Linked DNA regions of Homo sapiens. The protein of the gene in region 2 purifies or fractionates together with the protein of the main gene of each other region. This does not show direct contact. Each region holds a gene or a part of one and is shown on either strand. Other genes may lie near its edges.

Region 1 (4,781 bases), on a different chromosome or scaffold from region 2:
AGACACCCATAGTTTTTGGAAGTCATCTCATGACAGCAATATGCTTTATGTTTCTAAAAAGGAATTGTTATAAATTAACAATGCCCTCTTGGTAACATTAAAACTGCACTGAATTTTTGGAACCTTCTTAACATTTGTTTCTACATGGAATTTATATAATTTACAAATTTACATTATTCAAAGCTGATGGTTGATGGCACAATATATAATCCTGTGACAAGATTATGAAAAGGAAGTTCCCAGATATCCTCACAGGACATGAGACAGGGGTGTGGCTCATTTGTTCACCCAAACCCCTTACAGGAGGGGAAGCATGCAGATGGGCAAGTGCAGGAGCTGGATTGAGTGCTTTTGGGCTCTGGCCCCACAGTAGCATCTGGTGGGGGGTGTCTGCAACTCCCAAAGCCCCAGTGGGAATGTTACAGGGCTCCTTTAGCTCTGCTGTCTACAGATAGCTTAAGTGTTAACTAGCTCAGTGCCCTCTTGGTACCTGCGTTCTTGTCCAGCGTCCAGGAAGAATCAGGTCACATGGACAAATTGAAGGATGGTAAATGCAGGGGATTTTATTGCTGGATAAAGGTGGCTCTCAGCAGGATGGATGGGGAGCTGGAAAGGGGATGGAGTGGGAAGATGATCTCCTCTCCAACCGTCCCCAGCTGAACTCCTCTGGACGTTTAGATGCTCCTCTCTTCTCTCCTCTGCCGCAACACTCTTCTGCTCATGGAGCCTGGGGTTTAGGGTTTATATGGATACAGGATAGGAGGGCGTGGTGGGCCAAAAGGCAACATTTGGGCATGAAAACAGGAATGCCTGTTCCCATTTAGGGCCATGGGTTTCCAGGCTTTTGCTGGGGAACTGCCCTCTTCTACCCATTATTTCCTTGCCTCTTGTCCATATCAATTATATGTAAGAGTAAGAAGTTTTAATATTGTGTTCCTCCAATCGTTATTTTTTAGTGTTTTATTTCCTTTCCCTTTAAAAATAAATTAACTTAATAACACATCAAGTAACAACTGATTTATGAACTGAAAATAGTAACAAGCTCAACTCCAAAGTTCATGCTTTTCAACAAGATTCAACATCTTTTATTTACATGTTTATGACATACATTAATGGTCATACACAATTTTTAAACTAAATCTAGTAACAACAGAGGATGGAACATAAAAGACACAATTCCAAATTTTAGTCAGGTTGAAATGTTTTTCCACTAACTGAAAGATAAGATAAATGAGCAGCCATTATAAAGTTATGGGCTGTATGTCAATTCACGTCTTAAAATTGAAAGTCAGCCACACAGCTGTTAAAACAATGGGAAATTTGCAAATGCAAATATATAATGCATGCACAGCTATCACATTTATTCTTTATCCTTAAAGCCATTTTTAAAGTAAACTGGGAGAGGCAACTTAGTAATATATGTACATCAAGGCACATTCTTTTCTTGTGCTTTAGGAATGATTTACATGTGATCTGCTTATATCTTAATTTTATACTTTATAACAGCTTCTAATACCTAAAAGCTTAATTTTTAACAATTATTCTTTGAGTGGTAGTTTCCCAGAGAGAAATGTGGCATCTCTCATGGTTATTTTCAAAGTCAGAAAATTGGATAGCTTGAGGAGGTGGGATTTAAAAATCAAACATATGAATTAATATAACTTAGTTTTCATAACCTTTAAAAATAATTTATCTTCAACAATTTAGTGGAACTGTAATCAATTTCTTCAAGTATGATACTATGAGGGCTGCACTGAATAATTTTCAACATTCTGAAATTACCTGACAATTACATGGTATCCACAGAGCTGCTGTGAATGTCTATATTGCTATCTGATTTCTCAACTGCAGTTTTTCAACCAAATTAAACAATTAAACATGATACAAAAGCTGAAAACATACCAAATCTAGTTTGTTTGTTCATTAACTTGTTCATTCTTTGCAAATAATGAGAATTTTTTTTTCCATTAATTGTCCTATGTTATCAAGGAGAATTTTCCTGTCAACAGTGTTTAATAACTGTGTTCTTTTCTCATGGTCAATTTACTTGCCTTGAAGAAATAGTATAGTAAGGTTTTAATAAGCATTTCATGCATTTTAATGGCATTTTAAAAATTAGCTATTCATTTATGGGTTCCTCATATAGATAAATATATTGTGCAAACTTGATTACAACATGTAACTCATAAGTGCTTTAAAATAGAATAAAGCATCCCTGACTTAAAAGGGGATAAAATAAATAGTAAGTCAAGAATCACAGATCTAAAGCATTTAAAAAACGTAATATACCTATGCATCCTATTGAAATGCTTTATATTAGAATTTTCTTTTTAATCCATAAACAGGGCAAATAAATCACAGAATCTCTATATTTTGAGAATAAAACAGAAGAAAAGCCAACTGGTGCAGCCTTTTAAATGCAAAATGTATAATAAAGTAATGTCAAAATGCAAATGAAACTGTACGGTTTTAAATTCAGTACAGTCATTTATAAACATTAATTCATAAAAGGTATATCATGATAAACCACTGCCATCAAATATTAGGTTGGTGCAAAAGCAATTGCACCAACCTAATAGATCTGTTTTCAATTTCTCTACACTAAACGGACTTTTCTATAGAACCCATTGGCCAGACAAAATGTTTGGAAACGTTACGTTACCAAACAGCCCAGAACTTTGATATGTAAACTCCAAGCAGACAGTCACACAGAATTGTAAACAAATGTTCTGTGAGTTCAGTGTACAAGAGATGTCACTTCTTTTTATCTTCATTAACATACTCATTCTCCTCCTGAAATATGTGCTACCTCTACTTTAACAGTTTGAATAGCTTCTGCAACTTCAGATAGCTTCTGTCCTTGCTGTTGTGCTAATACATAATTAACCACTTGCATAATACTTTGGTCAGAAAGTGTAGATACCGATGGATACTCTTCAGTAGCTGCAACAGCTTCCAGAGCTTCCATAGTTTCTCCTGTCACTACCACAGTCTCAAGTTCTTGAGGACCACTGCTTTCTTGTTCCTGCATGCCTGCTGTTAAGATGCTAACAGCATGTGCCACTTGAGTTCCTTGGTTATGAAACTGAAGGGTGTCTTTTTCCAGCATAATTTTGCAAGGCACATAGTCTCTGTGGAATTTAGTCATATGTTTACGGAGTGTTCGAGCATCTATGTAGGCTTCGCTACATACAGGACAGACATAGGGCCGTTCACCAGTATGTGTTCTGACATGGCGTTTTAGAGATCGGGCATCAGCCCAAGCTACTCCACATGTTAAGCACTCAAATGGCTTAACTCCTAAAAAAAAAAAAAAAAAAGCATGTGTAGTGAGGTGCAAGCACCAAAATATACTTAAACTGCCTACCAAACTTCCTTTTATTAAAAAGTACAGTAGCTCATAAGCCTTTCTATCTGGACTGTGGCAATCTTTTATTTAGGACTTTCCTTAGAATAAAGAAGATTCTTTGCCGGGCACGGTGGCTCACACCTGTAATCCCAGCACTTTGGGAGGCCAAGGCAGGTGGATCACCTGAGCAGTTTGAGACCAGCCTGACCAACATGGTGAAACCCCATCTCTACTAAAAATACAAAAATTAGCCCAGCGTGGTGGCGGGTGCCTGTAGTCCCAGCTACTTAGGAGGCTGAGGCATGACAATCACTTGAACCTGGGAGGCAGAGGTTGCAGTGAGCCAGGATCGCGTCACTGCACTCCAGCCTGGGTGACAGAGCAAGACTTTGTCTCAAAAAAAAAAAGAATAAACAAGATTCTGAACTATAAATCTCTCTAAAGATCTTCCTGCGGACAGATGTGATTGAGACAAATTTTAGTTTCTGTGCATAAACTCATTTATTCCTTCATTCCTTCAAAGCAGAGGCTTCAAATAGTTTAGTTCAGCATAACAATGTGGATACAGAATTAAGTTCACTAAAAAAGGAATCTATTTATATACACAATAATTAGGTACTCAGGTTCAGGATCACCTCTGTCATTTGAATAAAGATATGAAATTAACCTTTTACCAAGGAAGGTGAAAGAGCTGGTAAAGGGAGAATCACTACTGGACTGGCTTTTATTCTATAAGGATACATATAATATAAAGTATAGTTACCTTCATGGTTGTTCATGTGTCTCCTATACTCTCTTAGCTGAGTGAATTTTCTTCCACATTTTTCACACACCCGTTCCAGGTTTTGCTTTGCTCTTCCTTTCTTCCCATGGGTAGCTTTCTTTACATGCCTTCTGAACAAAGCTTTTTCATAAAATTCTTTGCCACATATATTACACCTAAAATAGGGGAAAAGACCCAATTATTTTGTCCAAAGAAGTAGCAGCCATAACAATCAGAGTACACACGTTATCAATTAAGTTCAGCTCCTTCTCAAATTTACTCACCTATAAGGCTCAGTGACAGAATGAGACTTCACATGGGAATACCAATCTTTCTTCCAACTATAGCACTTATCACAAAATTGGCACTGGAATGGCTTCACACCAAGATGTTTGTTCATGTGCTGGCGAAGATCTCTAGCTTCAAAGAAACTTTTTTCACATCTGCAATAAAGTTCAGTTACCCAATTGGATAATCTTATTCCTTTAAAACAAGTTTCCAAGAACTCAGTAACTATTTTTAGTTTTTTAGAACTCCAAAAGATGATCTCAACTTAAAAGAATTCCCTAATTTTCTAATCTTACATAAAGGCTACAGGGTTTTAGGTTCTTTTCATCTTAAGACTACTAGAAATGTTTTAGAAAGAATCGTGCATAGTTCCCAAAGGTT
Region 2 (4,546 bases):
TATTCATAGAAACTTTTATATATTTGTGGCAAATCTTTTCCCAATTATTTGCTTTAAAATGGTAGGCCGGGCACAGTGGCTCATGCCTGTAATCCCAGCACTTTGGGAGGCCGAGGCGGGTGGATCACAAGGTCAGGAGTTTGAGACTAGCCTGACCAACATGGTGAAACCCCCAACTCTACTAAAAAAATACAAAAATTAGCTGGGTGTGGTGGCACGTGCCTGTAATCCCAGCTACTTAGGAGGCTGAGGCAGGAAAATGGTCTGAACCGGGGAGGTGGAGGTTGCAGTGAGCTGAGATCGCACCACTGTACTCCAGCCTGGACGACAGAGTGAGACTTCGTTTCAAAAATAAATAAATGAATAAAAATTAAAAAAAAAAAACAAACCAAAACTGTTGTGGTATTTGACTAATGGCCAAACAGATGGTTGAGTACTGCATTCAATCATTGTCTTGTTGCAATCTGGAAGATTCTTTGCTGGTGGGTGGTTAACACTTTGTAGTTTTCAAAGTGGAAACACAAGATTTTATAATGAAATTTCAAATATCTTTTTAATATATTTTTTCTTGGGATGACAATAATAATATTACTATGATAGTATTAACTTATTTCTATTGCTTTTACTAGTTAAAAAAGTAATGGGCATTCTTACAAAGTTAAACAATATAGAAATATACAAAGCAGAAAATTAAAGGCTCTCTAATCCCATTACCATATACCCACCTGCAGACAGAATGGGAAGATTTAGTCATAAATACAAAGACAATACATGGAAAAAAAATAGACAATTATTAACTCTAGGAAAAAACGTAATCATAGCATATTCCTTGGCTCAGAAATGAAAAGTATTTACTTGGTTATTAAAAAAGATATATATGGATTCCCCCAAATTTTTAATACAGCCACATTGGGAATATTGAGGAAGGTAGGAGAAGTATAAGAGATTGAATAATTCTCCTTTATTCTTTTATTAAGTGACTGAAATATATGTACTTTATTTAGCTACATGTGTGCACATGTAAGTAGTTTCTTCTAGGGAATGGAATTTGGTGCTATGGGTAGGGCAGACAAATAACACCTGTGTTTGATTTTAAGCCTTTTAGAGCTATGTTACTTTATATTTTATAGGTATTTATAATTTATTTTATAGGTATTTACAATTTATCCAGATTGGGATAAAGCTACAAGAAATATGATGACAAAACACCCATATTTAAAGACAAAATTCTCTTGAAAAGTTTATTAATATAAGTAACAATAAATCATTCAACTTTTCGGTCTTCAGGAAGTTTGTTTTAAGGATTAATTTCAGAAGTCCTCATGTAAACAAATCAGGCATGAATAAAGCCCTTATAATGAACTTTTCAAATAAATTTTTAAAATATCTTTTTTCTTGGGATGACAATAATAGTATTAACATGATAGTATTAATTTTTCTTATTTTTATTAAAATTAGCTCTTCAAGATTGTTACTAACAAATCTTGATTTTTATTACTGTGCTGGGGCAAGATTTTAATCACTAAGTTCTTCCTCATCACTGAAATATGTGCTTTTCTTTATCCTTGGGCGTCTTGAATCATCTGATGTTGAGGGGACTCCTGAACTGGGTTTCCATTTTTTTTGTTCTTCTTCAATTTTGGCTTGCTGTGATTCAAAAAACAAAACAAAACCAATAACCTGTTTAATATTATTTATGGTTCATTAATTCAAAACATGGCAAAAACATACCACAAATGCCATTACTTCCCACCCTCCCAGTCCATGCAGACAATAAGATCTGCTCCCTTCCCCTGAGTTCTGTCTCATCTCAAAATCTTACACAAAATTATCCTAGGCAATTTCTTAAAAAAATCTTTTCTGTTGGGCTATATTCACTTTGAGCAAATAGTTCTGCTCATTTCTTTAATGAAAAAAGATTAAGATAGTAAGTGTTGTGGGGCCCTTAAAATCTAGGAAGAACCAATGGGAACTTTTCATTCACACTGGCTAAGTACCTCAGAGAAACAGCTTGTCTCCTAAGGCTTAGGAGGTTAGGGGGAAAAAGAGAGGTTGCCATGAGGTGATCAATGAAGTAAGCAAGCACTATAAACCAAGTCAACTATTGTATGATGCCTTTTAAAAGAACAATTTAATACCTGGAATGCTATGGCCTGACTGAGGCTGTCAAGAGCAGGATCCTCCCCTTCATCTTCACTTTCTTCTACTTCCTCACTTAAATAAAGAAAAACAAATTGGAATGTAACCAACCAATAATCAAAAGCAACCAACCAAAAGACAAAAGCAACATGATGATGTATTTAGTAAGAATAATATACATACATTTCTTCTTCTGGTTCAGGAGCTTTCTTTTTTTTCTTTTTTTCTTTCTTCTTTGGAGGCTCACGTTCTCCGAGCATATTTTTCGGACAGGCATAACTTAAGTGTCCACTTTCCTTTTGTTTCCCATTAAAAAGGAAAGGAAAAATACCATATTTGATGTTATTTATAAAAACTTGCCTGGTACCTTATTACTAAAAAGTTTTCAAATTTAAAAAGGAATATTCCCATACTGGGACTATACAGAAGACATTAATGATAAAACCCAGTACTTTAATATTTAGAAGGTGATATTATAACTCTCAGTTATTTTAACATTTAGGACTATTTAGTAGTTTTACTAAGAGTAGTGGTAGTAGTCTTCTTTCAAACATTTAAATCTCAAAATTCAAGATATAAAACAGTTTGGTCGGGCGCGGTGGCTCACGCCTGTAATCCTAGCACTTTGGGAAGCCGAGGTGGGTGGATCACCTGAGGTCTGGAGTTTGAGACCAGACTAACCAAAATGGTGAAATCCCGTCTCTACTAAAAAAAAAAAAAAAAAAAAAAAAAAAAAAAAAATTAGTTGGGCATAAGTGGCACACACCTGTAGTCCCAGCTACTCAGGAGGCTGAGGTAGGAGAATTGCTTAAACCCAGGAGGTGGAGGTTGCAGTGAGCTGAGATCATTCCGTTGCACTCCAGCCTGGGTGACAAGAGCAAAACTCCGTCTCAAAAAAAAAAAATCAAAATTTAAATGGATCATTTACCCTAAATGTAAACATCTTAAGTTATTGATAAAACGAGGATAAAACTATTCCTGTTAATTTCCAAGATGTTGCTTAATACTCTGTTGGGCTGGGCAGGCTGAGGCAGGTGGGTCACCTTAGGAAGTGAGTTCAAGACCCGCCTGGCCAACATGGGGAAACCCTGTCTCTACTAAATATACAAAAATTAGCTGGGCTTGGTGGCATATGCCTGTAATCCCAGCTACTCAGGAGACTGAGGCACAAGAATTGATCGAACGCGGGAGGCAGAGACTGCAGTGAGCTGAGATTGTGCCACCGCACTCCAGCCTAGGCAACAGAGCAAGACCCTGTCTCAAAAAACAAACAAAAAACCAAAAAACAAATGGAAAATTTCTTCCTCACTTTTCCTATGAATTACTTCCGTTTTTTCCCTTTTATATCCTGACTACACTTGCACTATCCAATTACAGTAGTCACTAGCCAGCCAATGTGGCTACTGAGAACTTGTCTGAATTGATACGTACTGTAAAGGTAAAATACACATTGGATTTCTGAAGACTTAGTAACATACGTGGCTTGCATTATATTCTCATTTGACAATGCTGGACTAGGCTATTATTCCTACTTAGCTAGAACATTGATTTGTAAAACATAAGAGCTCAACTATAATCTGGACATCAGCTCACTACAATTCCATTTAAGAGGTTATGTCAGGGTAGGGTGTGGGGACTGAGCCAAGGTTAGAACAATAGAAGGGAACAATAATCATGCTTTTCCAGTATATTTGACAGAGCAGACAGACTGTGCACTTTGTATACCTAGGACATAGCCCAACTTAAAGAGGTTACTTACTGTTAATGAGCTGCTGAGAAAATAGAGACACATATCTGAAACTGTTTTGGAATAATATTATAGCAAAAAAAAATTAACATATCCCATACTAAAAAAGGATTTAATGAAATAACTTGAGAAAAACCAGGCTAGGTCAATATAAAAAAGTTTTTTTTGGAGGGAGGGAAATTAAATATAAAAATGTAAAAAATATAACAACTCTATGGATCCATAAACCAAAAGGAACCGATTAACAGATTCATCTAGGATTTCTCAGATAATTTAATATTTACTGTGAATATGAAGATATATACTAATCTGAATATAACTACCTTCCCTCCCTCCCTTTCTTTCTTTTACAAAACTCAAAACTTTGGAAAAGTTTCTAAAGTGTTTACTTAAGAGGTTTTAGAATCATAGGAATTGACAGAATCAGTATGTATCCAAGCAACTGCTTGCTCACTCTTTCTATTCATCCATCCATCAGTCTGTTTATTTAGTTATCTTTTTTGTCGGGGGTATGGGGAGTGACAGTGGGGTAGAGGACCTCAAGCCATTTCCTTGCATCTTCCATGTGATTTTGTAGCCAGGACGGTATCTTTCAGTGATTCTCTCCCCAGTTCCCCATTACTACCTCTGGACTCTGTTTTTTAAGTATTTTATTTTATG
Region 3 (7,154 bases), on a different chromosome or scaffold from region 2:
GAAGTCTCCTGTACCTCAGGGCAGCTCCTTCCACTCTATCTGGTCACTGAACCAGGTCCGCTCATTTTCATTAAAACATACCCTTTGACTGATCTCACACAAGCTCACTCTCTTGCTCATTAAAGCAGACCCCTTCGCTTGCTTCCAGGCTGTTCATTAGAGCAGATCATCTGTTCTTAGTTTGTTTTTCTACATATTGAAGTAAACACTATTACTCACCAGAGCAATCCCTCCCTCACGCCTCATCTTGTTTCAGCAGATCCCCACCCTACATTCTAGCAACTTAAGGCAAGCAAGTTAAGACGTGTGTTACCCGCTCACTAAAGCAAGTCCTCTTATTCCTATTAAAGCTCATCTTGGCCAGGCGCAGCGGCTCACGCCTATAACCCCAGCACTTTGGGAGGCCAAGGCGGGTGGATCACCTGAGGTCAGGAGTTTGAGACCAGCCTAGCTGACATGATGAAGACCCATCTCTACTAAAAATACAGAAATTAGCCAGGCTTGACCAGGCGTGGTGGCTCATGCCTGTAATCCCAGCACTTTGGGAGGCCGAGGCGGGCGGATCACCTGAGGTCAGGAGTTCGAGACCAGCCTGACCAACATAGAGAAACCCCATCTCTACTAAAAATACAAAATTAGCCGGGCATGGTGGCACATGCCTGTAACCCCAGCTACTCAGGAGGCTGAGGCAGGAGAATCGCTTGAACCTGGGAGGTGGAGGTTGCGGTGAGCTGAGATCACGCCATTGCACTCCAGCCTGGGCTTGAAACTCCATCTCAAAAAAAAAAAAAAAAAAAAAAAAAGAGAGAGAGAAAAGAAAAGAAATTAGCCAGGCTTGATGGTGCAGCCTGCAGTCCCAGCTACTTGGGAGGCTGAGGCAGGAGAATCGCTTGAACTGAGATCACACCACTGTACTCCAGCCTGGATGACAGCGCAACACTGTCTCAAAAAAATAATAGTAATCCCAGGCTGGAGTTCAGCGGCGCGATCTCGGCTCACTGCAACCTCCACCTCCCAGGTTCAAGTGATTCTCCTGCCTCAGCCTCCCAAGTAGCTGGGATTACAGGTGCCCGCCACCACAACTGGCTAATTTTTGTATTTTTAGCAGAGACGGGGTTTCACCATCTTGGCCAGGCTGGTCTCGAACTCCTGACCTCAGGTGATCTGCCTGCCTGAGCCTCCCAAAGTACTGGGAATACAGGCGTGACTCACCGCAACCGGCAGGACTGAGTTAAGCAGGTCCTTGACTTGCTTTTCTGCAAGCTAAAAAGAGATCCTTTAATGTGTTTCTAACTTATTCATCAAGGCAGACTCCCAGCAGCTTATCTGTGCATGGAGATCACTGACATCTCAAAAGAAAAACCTGCCTTCTCTAAGTTCGTCTCCAGCTTGCTTTCTGCCCATTTGAGGTCCCCTTGTTTATATTAAGGTTGACCTGTTTCCGCAGATATTTGCCTTCCAAGCCACATCATTAACACAGATCTCAGAGGCTACCGTAAGCTGACTAACAATGAATAACCGCCATTCCACACCACAAAAGCCTCTCCTCACCTTTTTCCTTGGAGCCAGTGTCCACGAAGAAGAGTTTTTCATTTGGGGCCTCTGACAACAAGCCACTGGGGGACAGAAATGCAGAACATCAGCCAGAGATGTTGGAGAGGAAAGAGATTTAACCTGGCAGGTCCAGCCTTCATCTTCCGCTTAGTCAAGTCCCGCCACCGGACTCTTCCAGGCTAAGGCTTCGCCCAGCAGTTTACAGAACTTAGTATTTAGGAAGGACTGCCAGGCGCAGTGGCTCACGCCTGTAATCCCAGCACTTTGGGAGGCCCAGGCGGGTGGCTCACCTGAGGTCAGGAGTTCAAGAGCAGCCTGGCCAACATGGTGAAACCCTGCCTTTACTAAAAATACAAAAATTAGGCTGGGTGTGGTGGCTCACACCTGTAATCTTAGCACCTTAGGGGGCCGGGGCGGGTGGATCACCTAAGGTCAGGAGTTCAAGACCAGCCTGGCCTGTAACATGGCAAAACCCTGTCTCTACTAAAAATACAAAAATTAGCCGGACGTGGTGGTGCATGCCTGTAATCCCAGCTACTTGGGAGGCTGAAGCAGGAGAATCACTTGAACCCAGGAGGCAGAGGTTGCAGTGAGCCGAGATCGTGCCATTGCACTCCAGCCTGGACTACAGAGAAAGACTCCGTCTCAAAAAAAAAAGAAAAAAGAAAAGAAAAGAAAAATAGCCGAGCGTGGTGGCGCCCGCCTGTAATCCCAGCTACTAAGGAGCTGAGGCAGGAGAATCGCTTGAGCCTGGGAGGCGGAGGTTGCGGTGAGCTGAGATCGCGCCTACTCCAGCCTGGGCGATAGAGCGAGACTCCGTCTGAAAAACATATATATATACATATATATACACACACACATATACACATATATATATACACACATATACACATATATATACACACACATATATACATACACACACACACATATTTAGAAAACAGCAAGCTAAGGTGGATGCATGGAACGTATTTATGCTAAAAATTATTCATTGTTTACCTAAAATCCAAATTTAATTGAGCGTCCTGTATATTTATCTGCTAAATCTGGTAACTCTATCAAGCTCTCCAGCTTCCCATGCTGAGTCCCCTGCCCATGCTCTCCATTTCCTCGGCGGTCCCCGGGACAGGAGCCCCCAACCCCCGACCCCCGACCCCCGACCCCCGACGAGTCCACGCAAGCACGCCTGGCCTTGCACCTGGGCGCAGGAACCGTCCCACCTCCCGGAAGTCCCGCCCAACGTACCCGCTCGTGCGCTCCTGTAGCCGCACGTCTTCCAGGAACTGGTCAACCTCCAGCCCCAGCGGCTCCTGAGCAAGCCGCCGCCAGCCCCGCTTCTTATTTCTTGGGCCTCGCCGCCGCCGCCTCAGCGCTGGGTCCACCGAAGTGGGCCGCAGCCCCAGGAAACCAGAATCGGCATCGCTTTTCGAGCTGCGCTTCCCACCAACGCCACTGCCTCCTGCCGCCATCTTGTCAAAGGAAGAACTCAGCCACTGGCGTCCCAAAAAGCCCCTTTGCAGCGTGCGCGCGCAGATTTCCCACCCTCTTCCGTGACGTACTTCCTGTGGCAGCCATATTTATAAAGTGACTGGAGTTGCCAGGAGGCTGCCATCTTGGTAAAGGATAAATGGCTCCTCCTTCCTCCATTCTTTACAGCGGGATCTGAAGATTCCTAACGGCGGCGGGTGGTAGGAAAGAGACGGGAAGGTTGCAGGTTCTTAGCTTTCGCCCTTAAGCGAACACCTTTCCCGGCCGCCTGGGGTCTTTGCTCAAACTGATTTTTTTCTTTAATAGATAAGGTCTCACTTTGTTGCCCCCAGGCTGGAGTGCAGTGGAAGGGTAATGGCTCACTGCAGCCTCCAACTCCTAAGCTCAGGGATTCTCCTACCTCAGCCTCCCGAGTAGCTGCGACCACAGAAGGGTGCATCCGCACCTGGCTAATTTTTTATTTTTATTTTTTGTAGAAATGGAGCCTCCCCATGTTGCCCAGGCTGGTCTCAAACATCTGGTTTCAAGTGATCCTCCTTCCTAGGCCTCCCAAAGCGCTGGGATTACAGGCTCACACCACCACTCCCGGTCCAAACTGATGTGTGTGTGTTTTTTTTTAAGAGACAAAGGTCTCACTATGTTGTCCAGGCTGGTCTTGAACCCCTGGGCTCAAGTGATTCTCCCTCCTCAGCCTCCGAAAATGCTAGGATTACAGATGTGAGCCACCATGCTCGGCCTGATTATTTTTTAATCTCGTTTTCTTAGAAAGTCAGAACCGTCAGTGGCAGATTCCGCACAACACACATTCCAATCTCAGAAGTTTTGTCCTCTCAAATGTTCCAATCCTAGGATCTTAGAAATCAAGTAACTTTCGGAATATCAAAGTTGGAAGCACAGAACATTAGAGGAATGTTAGAAACATACACTTTTAGGACCCTAGAAGTGCAGACTCAGAATCATTCATCTTGAGCGGGCTACTTCACTGTGCCTCAGTTTCCTCATCTGTAAAATAAAGATGATAACAGTACATCTGCGTCATAAGTCATGCAGAAGATTAAACATATGTAAAGCGCTTAAGGCTGCGTCTGGCATCTGAGTGTTAGCTATTGTTACTGCCTTGCCCTCTGAGGCTTCATCTTAGAATCAACTCATCTTTGTCATTTACAAATAAGGAAGGAAGCTCAGAGGCTCTTGGGCCCTGGCAGCCATTCAAAGGGATCCATGGCAGGGCGTGGTGATTCACGCCTCTAATCCCAGCACTTTGGGAGGCCGATGCAGGAGGATCGCTTGAGCCCAGGAATTCAAGACCAGCCTGGGCAACATAGTGAGATCCTGTGTCTGCCAAAAATTTAAAAATTAGCCAGGCGTGATGGTGTGCGCCTGTAGTCCCAGGTACTCGGGAGGCTGAGGTGGGAGGATCGCTTGAGCCCAGGAGTTGGAGGGTGCAGTGAGCCGTGATTGCACCATTGCACTCCAGCCTGGGTGACAGAGCAAGACCCTGTCTCAAAAACAAAACAATCAAATCAAAGGAATCCAGGCCTCATAAAAGCCACTCTGGACTCATAAAGGAAAAAGGCACAGAGAGGGCAGGCGACACACGCATGGTCACACAGCGAAATTCAACTGGATCCTTGCGCAGAGCGTTGGAAAGGTGACAGGCCCTAAAGGTGACAGGCCCTGGATCGCAGCCCCGAGACCTGAGCGCCGAATCACCTGGGCAGGGATTTTGGCGACCACAGCCTATCTGTTTTCTGAGCGTCCGCCAGGGGGCGCCGCGAGCCGCGAAACTGGGCCCGCGTGGGCGGGATGAGTGCGCGGCCAGCGTGTCCCGGGACGCCGTGGGTGTGGCCTGGATGTGAGTGCGCGGGACTCGGCGCGCACGGTGCGCTGCCCAGCTCTGGCCAAGAGTCCCCGGTGCGTGAGCGCGCGCACACTCCTGGCAGCCCGTGTGGGCAAGGTCACCACTTCCCCAACCAGAAACCAGCGTGTTCCTGGTGTTACGCGTCGGGAGTTATGTACCCAGGTTGTGCAAGGGCACGTTGCCGGGCAGGGCGGGAGCTGGGAGAGCACTTCGTGCCCGAATACACACACACACACACACACACACACACACACACACACACCCCGCGCGCGCCCCAGGGCTTGGTTCCCAGGCCCCCGCCGCGGGAGGTGGGAGGAAGGGATGTCCCGGGGGGAGGGCCCCAGAGTCACTTTTCCTCGGAAAATATGCCGTTCTGGCCCCCAGCCCAGGCCTGAGTCACCAGGCCTCGCTGCATTGAGTCACGGACTCCACCCCGCCCCTGAGAGCACGGAAGGGGGCCTCCCCCCACCCCAAATCCTGCCCAGGTCTCTCTTTCCCTGGGGGAGGGCGGGCGATCCCTGTCCCAAGCCAGCCTCACTGCCACATGGGAAGAAGCCTTGGCTTTATTCGCTCTGTGGGGACACTGTTCCGTTCAGAGGCCCCTCCCAGCCATGGGGTGGGGGACAGTGGTGGGCGTGGGAATCCCAGCGAGCATCCTGGAGGGTGCGTCGTCTCCATGTATTTTGCTCTTCCCCATCTTTTCCATGGGGTCCCCTGCCAGGGTCAAGCACTAATATGTGGTGAAGGCAGCAAACAGCGTCGGCGTCCCTTTAGGGGTGGGGAGAGGGCTGTAGCACCAAGAACCCCCTCCCCCGCCCACGACATCCCTGAAAAGGAGACTAAAATAAAGCCCCGGGGCCTTTCTACGTAGGGGCTCCACTTAAATATGGAATGGTGGTAGGCAGAGAGGCGGTGGCCCAGCAATCCTTAAGTCCAGATTACCAGCTGTGGGGAGGCTTCCAGGGGGCCAGGAGCAGGCTGGGCAGTTCCAGCCACAGACACGTGGGTGGAGGACGGAAATATCTCCAAGGGGGCACAGTATCAGAGGAGCAGGATGGAAGGGGCTTTTCTGCCTGCTACGGGATCCTTTTTAAAGAAATGGGTGTGAAGCCGGGCACGGTGGCTCATGCCTGTAATCCCATCACTTTGGGAGGCCAAGGCGAGCAGATCACCTGAGATGCGGAGTTCGAGACCAGCCTGGCCAACATGGTGAAACCCCGTCTCTACTCAAATACAAAAATTAGCTGGGCGTGGTGGCGCGTGCCTGCAGTCCCAGCTACTCAGGAGGCTGAGGCACGAGAATCACTTCAACCCAGGAGGTGGAGGTTGCAGTGAGCTGAGATCTCACCACTGCACTCCAGCCTGGGCGACAGAGCAAGATTCTATCAAAAAAGAAAGAAAGGACAGGACAGGAAAGGGAAGGGGTGTGGACAGAACTGGGGGCAAAAACAAAAAAGAAGGAAGGAAGGAAAGAAAGAAATGGGTATGGGCAGAATTGGGGGCAAAAACAAAAAAGAAGGAAGGAAGGAAAGAAAAGAAGGAAGGAAGGAAGGAAATAAATGGGTGTGGGCAGAATTGGGGGCTTTCCCCGAGCAAGGGAAGGGGCTGCGGAGGGGCCCATCTGAGGAAGCAGTAGGTGTGTCTCCCCTCTGAGCCCCCCATGGTCCCGAGACCTGAGGATGTGATGGAGCCGGTTGAGGGTGTTGCCTGGCTGGGCAGGAGGAAGCGGAGCAGAAGGGGGTCTGTTTATCTGCTAGTCATTTCAGCCACAGGGCTGCTCAGCCAGGGGAGGGGCTGGGGGCCCTGCCAGGAATTAGTGTGTGTTTGCGTGACTGTGTAGGTGCCCTCTCCTGGGAACGTCACCTTCCATGAGGGCAGATGTATTTGTCTATTTTGTTCTCTATGGTAATGCCCAGTGCCTAGAACAGGGCTGGGCACATAGTAGGTGCTCAATAAATATTTGAATGAATGACGGATGGATGGATGCCTGCGTGTGCCAGTGTGTGTGTGATGTGCCTAAGTGAACGTGAGGCTGGAGGTGTGAAGGGCGGACAGAGAAGCCTTGTCCCTCCCGTGGTCCCCTCTAAATGCTTCCACCGGGGTGTCTGGCGGTAGTGAGGAGGGAGACCCCCGGTCCTTACAGCTGGGCAGGGAGGGCAGGCAGGGCGTGTGTGAGCCGGAGCAGGGGTGTGCGTGCAGCCGACTGGAGCTGGGGAGCCACAGCAGGGCCATGGGAGGGGGGCCGGCTCAC
Region 4 (7,649 bases), on a different chromosome or scaffold from region 2:
TGCTTGTCACCATCTGGTGGGGTTGGGGTCATTCAGTCAGTAATTCCTGCTTTGATTATTATTATTGTTGTTATTATTTATTTACTTATTTTTTTTTGAGGTGGAGTCTCATTCTGTTGCCCAGGCTGGAGTGCAATGGCATGATCTCGGCTCACTGCAACCTCTGCCTCCCGGGTTCAAGCTGTTCTCATGTCTCAGCCTCCCAAGCAGCTGGGATTACAGGTGCCCACCACCGCGCCCGGCTAATTTTTATATTTTTAGTAGAGATGGGGTTTCTCCATGTTGGTCAGGTTGGTCTCGAACTCCTGACCTCAGGTGATTTGCCTGCATCGGCCTCCCAAAGTGCTGAGATTACAGGCGTGAGCCACCGCACCCGGCCATTATTATTATTTTTTTGAGACAGAGTCTCACTCCGTTGCCCAGTGCATGGCGTGACTTGGCTTACTGCAACCTCCGCCTCCCAGGTTCAAGCGATTCCCCTGCCTCAGCCTCCTGAGTAGCTGGGATTACGGGTGTGCACCACCACGCCCAGCTAATTTTTGTTATTTTTAGTAGAGATGGGGTTTCACCATGTTGGCCAGGCTGGTCTCGAACTCCTGACCTCAAGTGATCCTCCCGCCTCAACCTCCCAAAGTGCTAGGATTACAGGCATGAGCCACCATGCCCAGCCTGATTAATTATTATAATTAATTTTTTTGAGAGTTGGAGTCTTACTCTTGCTCAGGCTGGAGTGCAGTGTCAACATCCTAGCCCACAGCTCACTGCAGCCTTGAACTCATGGGCTTAAGCAATCCTCCCACTTCAGCCTCCCAAATACCTGGGACTATAAGCGCACACCAGCATGCTCAGCTGAGTTCTGAATCTTTTGTAGAGATGGGGTCTTGCCGCCAGGCACAGTGGCTCACGCCTGTAATCCTAGCACTTTGGGAGGCCAAGGCGGATGGATTACCTGAGGTCAGGAGTTCGAGACCAGCCTGGCTAACATGGTGAAACCCCATCTCTACTAAAAATAACAAAAAAATAGCTGGGCGTGGTGGCACGCACCTGTAATCCCAGCTACTCCGGAGGCTGAGGCAGGAGAATCGGTTGAACCGGGGAGGCGGAGGTTGCAGTGAGCCCAGATCATGCCATTGCACTCCAGCTTGGGCAACAAGAGCAAAACTCCGTCTCAAAAAAAAAAAAAGAAAAAAGAAAGAAAGGCTGGCTGGGCGCAGTGGCTCACGCCTGTAATCCCAGCACTTTGGGAGGCCAGGGTGGGCGGATCACCTGAAGTTGGGAGTTCGAGACCAGCCTGGCCAACATGGAGAAACCCTGTCTCTACTAAAAATCCCAAATTAGCTGGGCGTGGTGGCGCGTGCCTGTAATTCCAGCTACTCAGGAGGCTGAGGCAGGAGAATCGCTTGAACCTGGGAGACGGAGGTTGCAGTGAGCTGAGATCGTCCCATTGCAACCCAGCCTGGGCAACAAGAGTGAAACTCCATTTCAAAAAAAAAAAAAGAGAAATGGGGTCTTGCTATGTTGGCCAAACTGGTCTCAAACTCCTGGCCTCAATTGACCCTCCCACCTCAGCCTCCCAAAGTGCTGGGATTAGATGCTTGAACCACCTGCCCAGCCTGGTGGAGTTGGAATCATTCAGTCAGCAATTCCCACCTTGAATAGTGCCAAGGACACAGTCATTAACTCCACCACCAGGTAATAACCTAGGCTCTGCTAAGGACTTGTGACTTGTGAAGCAATTCATTCAATAGTCAAAACAGATGAACTGTGTAAACTGGGTAAATCCCAATCTATCCTTAAAACAGCCCTGAGGGGAGATGCTACCGTTAGATATACTTTACAGACAGGAAAAGAGGCTCAGAGAAGTCAAGTCACTTCTCTGAATCCACAGTCAGGAAAGGACCCCGGATTCTGCTCCAGAGGAAGGAGAGGTTTAGACAGGAGTGGCCCCGGACCTGTTCTGTTATAGAAGGTGGCATCTTTCTGATAAATGCGGGGGTCCTTCTTCTTCAACAAGGAGAGCGTTTTGTAAAAGTCCCGCTCCTGCTGGGGATCAAATTCCTAGGGCAGGAAAAGGGTTGGGGATAGATTTCAGAAGGGAGATAATAAGAGCCCTGGCGCCAGCAGGTGAGCTCAGCGTAGGGATTAGGATGGAGGGGGGTGGATCTGGCTGGGGAGGTCAAACAGGTGGTCAAACAGCAGGAGGGAGAGGGGCCCTCTTGGGGTGGGCAGGGGCAGGCCACAGGTAGGTACAGGATATGGGTAGAGGAAGGTGAGGGGCAAGGAGAAGGTAATTCCTGGGGAAGACAAAGACTTGACAAGGGGCAGGTGGGCTGAGGGCACAAGAGAGACAGCGGGGAGGGGCTGGGCCAGGCCGCACAGTGGGGCCAGGATCAGGGCTGATGTGAGAAGTTGGGCGCCCCACGTGGCGCAAGGAGTACACTAAAAAATGGCTAGACTCTTGAGGATGAAAGAGGAAAGGGGGGGTTCTTGGGGGACAGAGTCGCCCCACACATCAGAGTGGGCAGGTGGGGATCGTGGCAGGGGAGAGAAAATAACGGGGATTTGGCTCCCCTGGGGAGAGGGGGGGCACTGTCTGTCCCTCATGGGATGGGGAGCGGAGGATGGGACGCTCCCGCAGGGCGCTCTGGGGTTGGGGGTTCCCCCCCGTCTACATCGGGGTCGGGGTGCAGAGGGGGGCTTGGACGCCTCCGCACGTCCAGGACGGGGCGGGGACGCGCACCACGCGCTCGTCGCTTGAGTCCGACTCGGAGCTGGAGTCGCTGCTGCTGTCTCGGTCCCCGTAGCGATCCTTCACTGCGGGACACAGACGGGATGCCCCCCCCCAGGTCAGCCGGCGGGGCCACTCGACTCCCCACTTCCCAACCGGCCGGCGCGCGCAGGCTCCCGCGCGCATGCGCCCCGCACTCACGCCGCTGCAGTTCCTCGCGCTCCCGGTAGCGGTTGTACCGCGCGGCAAACGCCGCGTTCACCCGCAGCTGCGACGACCCGCGCGGTTCCGGCATGGCGGTTCTGTGGCCCATTGCGCACGCGCATTGAGGAAGCCCTGGACGGGGCGGGGCCGCCCTCAGTCCCGCCCGCATCCACTTGTAAACGAGGCGTACCGCTGCTAACCCCGCCCCTGGCTTTTCCGGGATCCCTTTCGCCTCATCACCGCAGTCACCGCCCACGGCTACGCCCCTGCGGGGAAGGCCGCGGCCACCGCCCACCCGCCCCACCCCCTGTGCTCCGGGCACCCAGCTGACATCTGGGGGCCCTTTCTCCACTCGCGGTTTCCTGCTTCCCTTCCGTTCCGACAGCGAAAACCGCTGCCCCACCCAGCTCACTCACCCTGGCGCCCTGGGAATTACTATTCTCTCCCCTCACCCACCACATCCACGATCCGCGACCCCCGTCCTCATCCCCATCAACATCCGGGATGTGTAACTCTCCATCCCAGACTCAAAAATCAGAAGCCACCCGTGCTGTGATCATGCACAAGTCTTAATTTAATGGGTAAAAACATTAAATTATTACAACATTTTTTCCAATAAAGCATAATAAATAGAATCCATTTCTTTTAAAACGCTGTACAAGAGACTGGAAAACAAGCTTCCAACAGAATATGAATAACTCATAACTCATTCTACCTTCTTATTGATTTGGGACGCTCCCCCCACCCCCCATGCCTGAAGCAACGTGCACACTTCAGGTCTCTGAGCACAGCCGGCCAAGGCCACCAGCTTCTAGGCTCCCTGGAGGTCATGACTTCACTCTTAAATGCTCTGCCCTTGGGTCTCGTCTGAGGCCCCAGCAGCCTGAGGCGCAGAAGAAACTGAACCGTTTAGGTGGCTGTGGCCTGCAGGAGCCCTTCTCTGTCCAACACACCAAAAGGAGTGAGAAAAACAAATGAGAAACGTCCCCCAAACACTCACACCCCCAAAACCAACACCTATAAGCCACAAACTGTGCTCCTCCCCTACTGCAGCAGTGGGCAGGAGAAACAAGAAGAGAAAGTGTTTCTTCCCCTCTCTTCTGATACATAACCCCACGGGGTTCTCTTGCTGGAGAGGGTGACCCCAGATCACAGCGGGGCCACCATGTGGCCCTGCAGGATGTCCACGAGGTCCTGAGCCCCTCTCTGCAGTGCCAGCTCCAAGGGTGTGAGACCCCTGGCGTCCCTGCGATGGAGATCAGATTCAGCTGCCAGAAAGCTGACCACAGCAGTGTGACCCTCTTGAACTGCCAGATGGATTGGAAGTGCCCCGGTGCCATCAGGCACGTTGACATCAGCCCCGTGCTCCACTAGGACCTTCAGGGTGTCCAGGAATCCAGTGCGGGCTGCGTCATGGACTGGACTGGTACCGGAGGTGTCCTGGACATTGGGGCTGGCACCTTGCTTCAGCAGCTCCAGGGCGATGGCGGTGCTGCCAAACATCATGACCTGTGTGAGGGACAGAGGATCAGGAGGTCCTCAAGGGAGGAGGTTCCACAAAAGGGGTCACTGGAAAGAGAAGGGTCATCCAGAAAGAGGCATCTCCCAGAAACAGGAAATGCTAGAGGAGGGGTCCTCTAGTGAACGGAGAAGCTGCATAAGCCCCCAGGAAAGTTCTTCTGGGAATAGGGACCCCCCCCAAAAGCTGGTCACTCCCTTAAGAATGAGACCCCCCAACCCAGAGAACAGCCCCCCATGGAAACTTTCAAGGAACCTAAGACTCTCCCCCAAGGGACCAAAGACGCCCCCAGATATGGGCAATCACCAGGAAACAGAAAATCCCCTCCAGGAAATGGGCCCCCAGAGATGGAGAACTACCCCCAAAGAATTGATAGTCCTCATAAGGGAAAAAAGATGTCAAAGGAAAGCGAACCCCTTCTCCAGGAAATAGCCTCCTCCTACATAATGGTGATGTCACCTCAGAGTACCTGAGAGCTCCTTTCAAGAAGCGGGATTCCAAAAGTAATAATAAAAGAGAAACGAGACTTCCCTGTAAAATGTCTCCCAGGGAATATAGGGATGTCTTGCAATCTGACATTGTTCCTCCATTGGGGCCCCCATACTATATCAAGGATCCGCATAACCTTTAGGAATGAAGACCCCACCCCCAAGTAACCAGATTTGTCTCAGAGAGCCCCCTACAAAATGAGGAACCCCTAGAGACAGGACCTCTCCTTCCAGAGATCGGATCTCCCCATAGAAGCCCCAAGAAACGTGAGCCGTCCCCATGGAAACGGCATCCAAAGGAGCTGAACCCGCACCCACGGAATAAGAACCTCCCCAGGGAAAGTGAATCCCCGGCACTCAGAGAACCAGGAATCCTCCCAGAGAAGATGCTAAAAAGCTCTCCCCTCCCCCCACAACCTAGCCTCACCCACCACCCACCTTCGAAGGGGGACTGTGGGGGAACAATGAAAGCCTAGAGAAGAAGGACCGGTTCCCAGTGGGTCACCACCAGGGCCAGGAGACCAGAGAGGAGCTCTGGGGTCTCGATCCTCATCCCGCTTAGCCGCCCCGCCCCAACCTGGACCGGCCCGGCCTCACCTGCAGCGCCGTCTTGCCGAAGCGGTTGAGGGCGTCGGGATGCACCAGCTCCCGGTGCAGAAGGCGGCGCACCTCCTGCACGTCGCCCCGGGCCGCCGCCCCACTCAGCCGGTCGCCGGCGCGAACCTCCTCCAGCAGCATGTCGACACTGGCGGCCTGCAAAGCCCCCCGCCCCGCCCCAGCCCGGCGCTGTCAGCGCGGAGCAGCCGGCGGGCGCTGGCCCGAACAGCCCTCCCGGGGCGCGGCCGCGGTGCACCCGGCTGCGCTGCTCTCCCGTCCCGGCTCCCCAGCCCGAGACCCCGGCCCTCCCGGCGGGCTCCTCCCCCTGTCAGCCGGAGGACGGCGAGGGGCTGGGAGCCGGGCCCAACCCTCGGCCGCCCGCGGGGCCCTGCCCGGCGCCCGCCCCTTGGGGGCCGGGTCTCCCCCTAACTCACCCTCCCTCCTCCTCGCCGGGCGGGGTCTGCTCTGAGCCTGCGCCGCCGCCGCCGCTGAGGCAGCCGCCAGGGGGCGGAGCCAACGTGCTCCCGGCCACGCCCCGAACGCAACTGATTTGTTTTCTTACAAACTCGCTACTGTGTAGCGGCACCGCGTTGCCCGGCGCGCGACCTTACGGCGTTCCGCCCACAGGGCCTGCATAACCAGTGGCTGCGCGTCGCCGGGGAAACTTCGGGCTCGGCGTGAAACGCGTCGCTCCTGATTGGTCAGAGTGTGGCAACCGGTGGACCGCCGGCAATGGCGGGGTTTTCGGTTTTCAAATGAACCCGGCAGGCGGGAAAGAAGGCTGGTTTAACTGACCCAGGGAGAAAGGTCAGGGGCAGGGTCGCGCGGGCTGCTCTGGGACCTCGGCGCCTCCTGAGGGAAGGGAGGCAGGGCTGGAGCCACCCAATCCGAGGTTCCACTACTAATAGACATTCATTGGCCCTTACTACGAGCTGGGCGCTTTATTTCATTCATTTATTCATTCACTGTGTGCAGGGAGCGTCCTGGGAGCTGGACGCGCACATTCAAACAACCAAATAATATTAGATAGTGTCAAGCACCGTGAAGAAAGGGAAACGGAGAGACGGAGTGGATGAGGAAGGGATCACCCTGCCGGGCTCAGACTGAGCCAGCAGGAAAGGAGCCTGCAGCTGCCACGTGGGAAGGCCTGAGAGGACATAGTCGCAGCCAGACAGGGACTCAGAGGTCTTCGTTCAAATATTTACTTAGCACCTCCTAGAGGGGCCCGAGTGGAGAGCACGCCAGTCGGCCCCTGCTGCAGGGACACCTATGGTCTGGGGCCAGAGACAATAGTTAATTTTTATTTATATATGTATTTATTTTTGAGTCAGGGTCTCACTCCTGTCACCCGGGCCGGCGTGCAGTGGCGCGATCACAGCTCACTGCAGCCTCGACTTCCCGGGCTCAAGTGATCCTCCTGCCTCAGCCTCCCGAGTAGCTGGGACTACAGGGCGCACCACCACGCCCGGCTAATTTGTGTTTTTAGTAGATATGAGGTTTCACTATGTTGCCCAGGCTGGTGTTTTTTGTTTGTTATTTGTGTTTGGCTTTTAAATACAGATTTTTTTTTTTATGTTGGGGTTCTTGCTTTGTTGCCCAGGCTGGTCCCGAATTCCTGGGCTCAACGGATCCTTCTGCCTTGGCCTCCAAAAGTGCTGGGATTACAGGCGTGAGCTCCTGCTCTCCGCCAATAGTTAAATCTTTTTAGAGTGGTAGAGGACTGACCAGATGAGCCATTGAAACGGAAAGGCAAAAAGCCGGGCGCGGTGGCTCACACCTGTAATCCCAGCACTCTGGGAGGCTGAGGTGGGCGGATCACGAGGTCAGGAGTTCAAGACCAGCCTGACCAACATGGTGAAACCCCGTCTCTACCAAAAATATAAAAAATTAGCCGGGCGAGGTGGCGGGCGCCTGTAGTCCCAGCTACTCGGGAGGCTGAGGCAGGAGAATGGCGTGAACCCCAGGGGGCGGAGCCTGCAGTGAGCCGAGATTGCGCCACTGCACTCCAGCCTGGGCGACAGCGAGACTCCGTCTCAAAAAAAAAAAAAAAAAAAAAAAAATTAGCTGCGCCTGGTGGCACGCACCTGTAATCCCAGCTACTCAGGAGGCTGAG

Evidence for each region.
Region 1: the proteins of ZCRB1 (region 2) and ZBTB11 purify together in Homo sapiens (co-immunoprecipitation; 3 studies listed by BioGRID and IntAct, with this or other methods). This does not show direct contact.
Region 3: the proteins of ZCRB1 (region 2) and NOP53 purify together in Homo sapiens (affinity purification with mass spectrometry; 2 studies listed by BioGRID and IntAct, with this or other methods). This does not show direct contact.
Region 4: the proteins of ZCRB1 (region 2) and KRI1 purify together in Homo sapiens (co-immunoprecipitation; 3 studies listed by BioGRID and IntAct, with this or other methods). This does not show direct contact.

What each region holds. Positions count from the first base shown.
Region 1 is NC_000003.12:101,648,384-101,653,164, forward strand, and holds the end of ZBTB11 (zinc finger and BTB domain-containing protein 11), read right to left. Parts: intron 4,556-4,781; coding exon 4,397-4,555; intron 4,289-4,396; coding exon 4,113-4,288; intron 3,301-4,112; coding exon 2,783-3,300; 3' UTR 506-2,782; downstream 1-505. UniProt on the Homo sapiens protein: May be involved in transcriptional regulation.
Region 2 is NC_000012.12:42,311,552-42,316,097, forward strand, and holds the end of ZCRB1 (zinc finger CCHC-type and RNA-binding motif-containing protein 1), read right to left. Parts: intron 2,436-4,546; coding exon 2,323-2,435; intron 2,215-2,322; coding exon 2,139-2,214; intron 1,648-2,138; coding exon 1,516-1,647; 3' UTR 535-1,515; downstream 1-534.
Region 3 is NC_000019.10:47,741,429-47,748,582, reverse strand, and holds the start of NOP53 (ribosome biogenesis protein NOP53), read right to left. Parts: upstream 3,038-7,154; 5' UTR 3,024-3,037; coding exon 2,800-3,023; intron 1,617-2,799; coding exon 1,552-1,616; intron 1-1,551. Other genes in the region: EHD2 (EH domain-containing protein 2), read right to left, coding at 7,151-7,154. UniProt on the Homo sapiens protein: Nucleolar protein which is involved in the integration of the 5S RNP into the ribosomal large subunit during ribosome biogenesis. In ribosome biogenesis, may also play a role in rRNA transcription.
Region 4 is NC_000019.10:10,562,977-10,570,625, forward strand, and holds the start of KRI1 (protein KRI1 homolog), read right to left. Parts: upstream 3,035-7,649; 5' UTR 3,024-3,034; coding exon 2,930-3,023; intron 2,915-2,929; coding exon of another isoform or gene 2,815-2,914; coding exon 2,741-2,814; intron 2,059-2,740; coding exon 1,953-2,058; intron 1-1,952. Other genes in the region: CDKN2D (cyclin-dependent kinase 4 inhibitor D), read right to left, coding at 4,082-4,441, 5,537-5,677.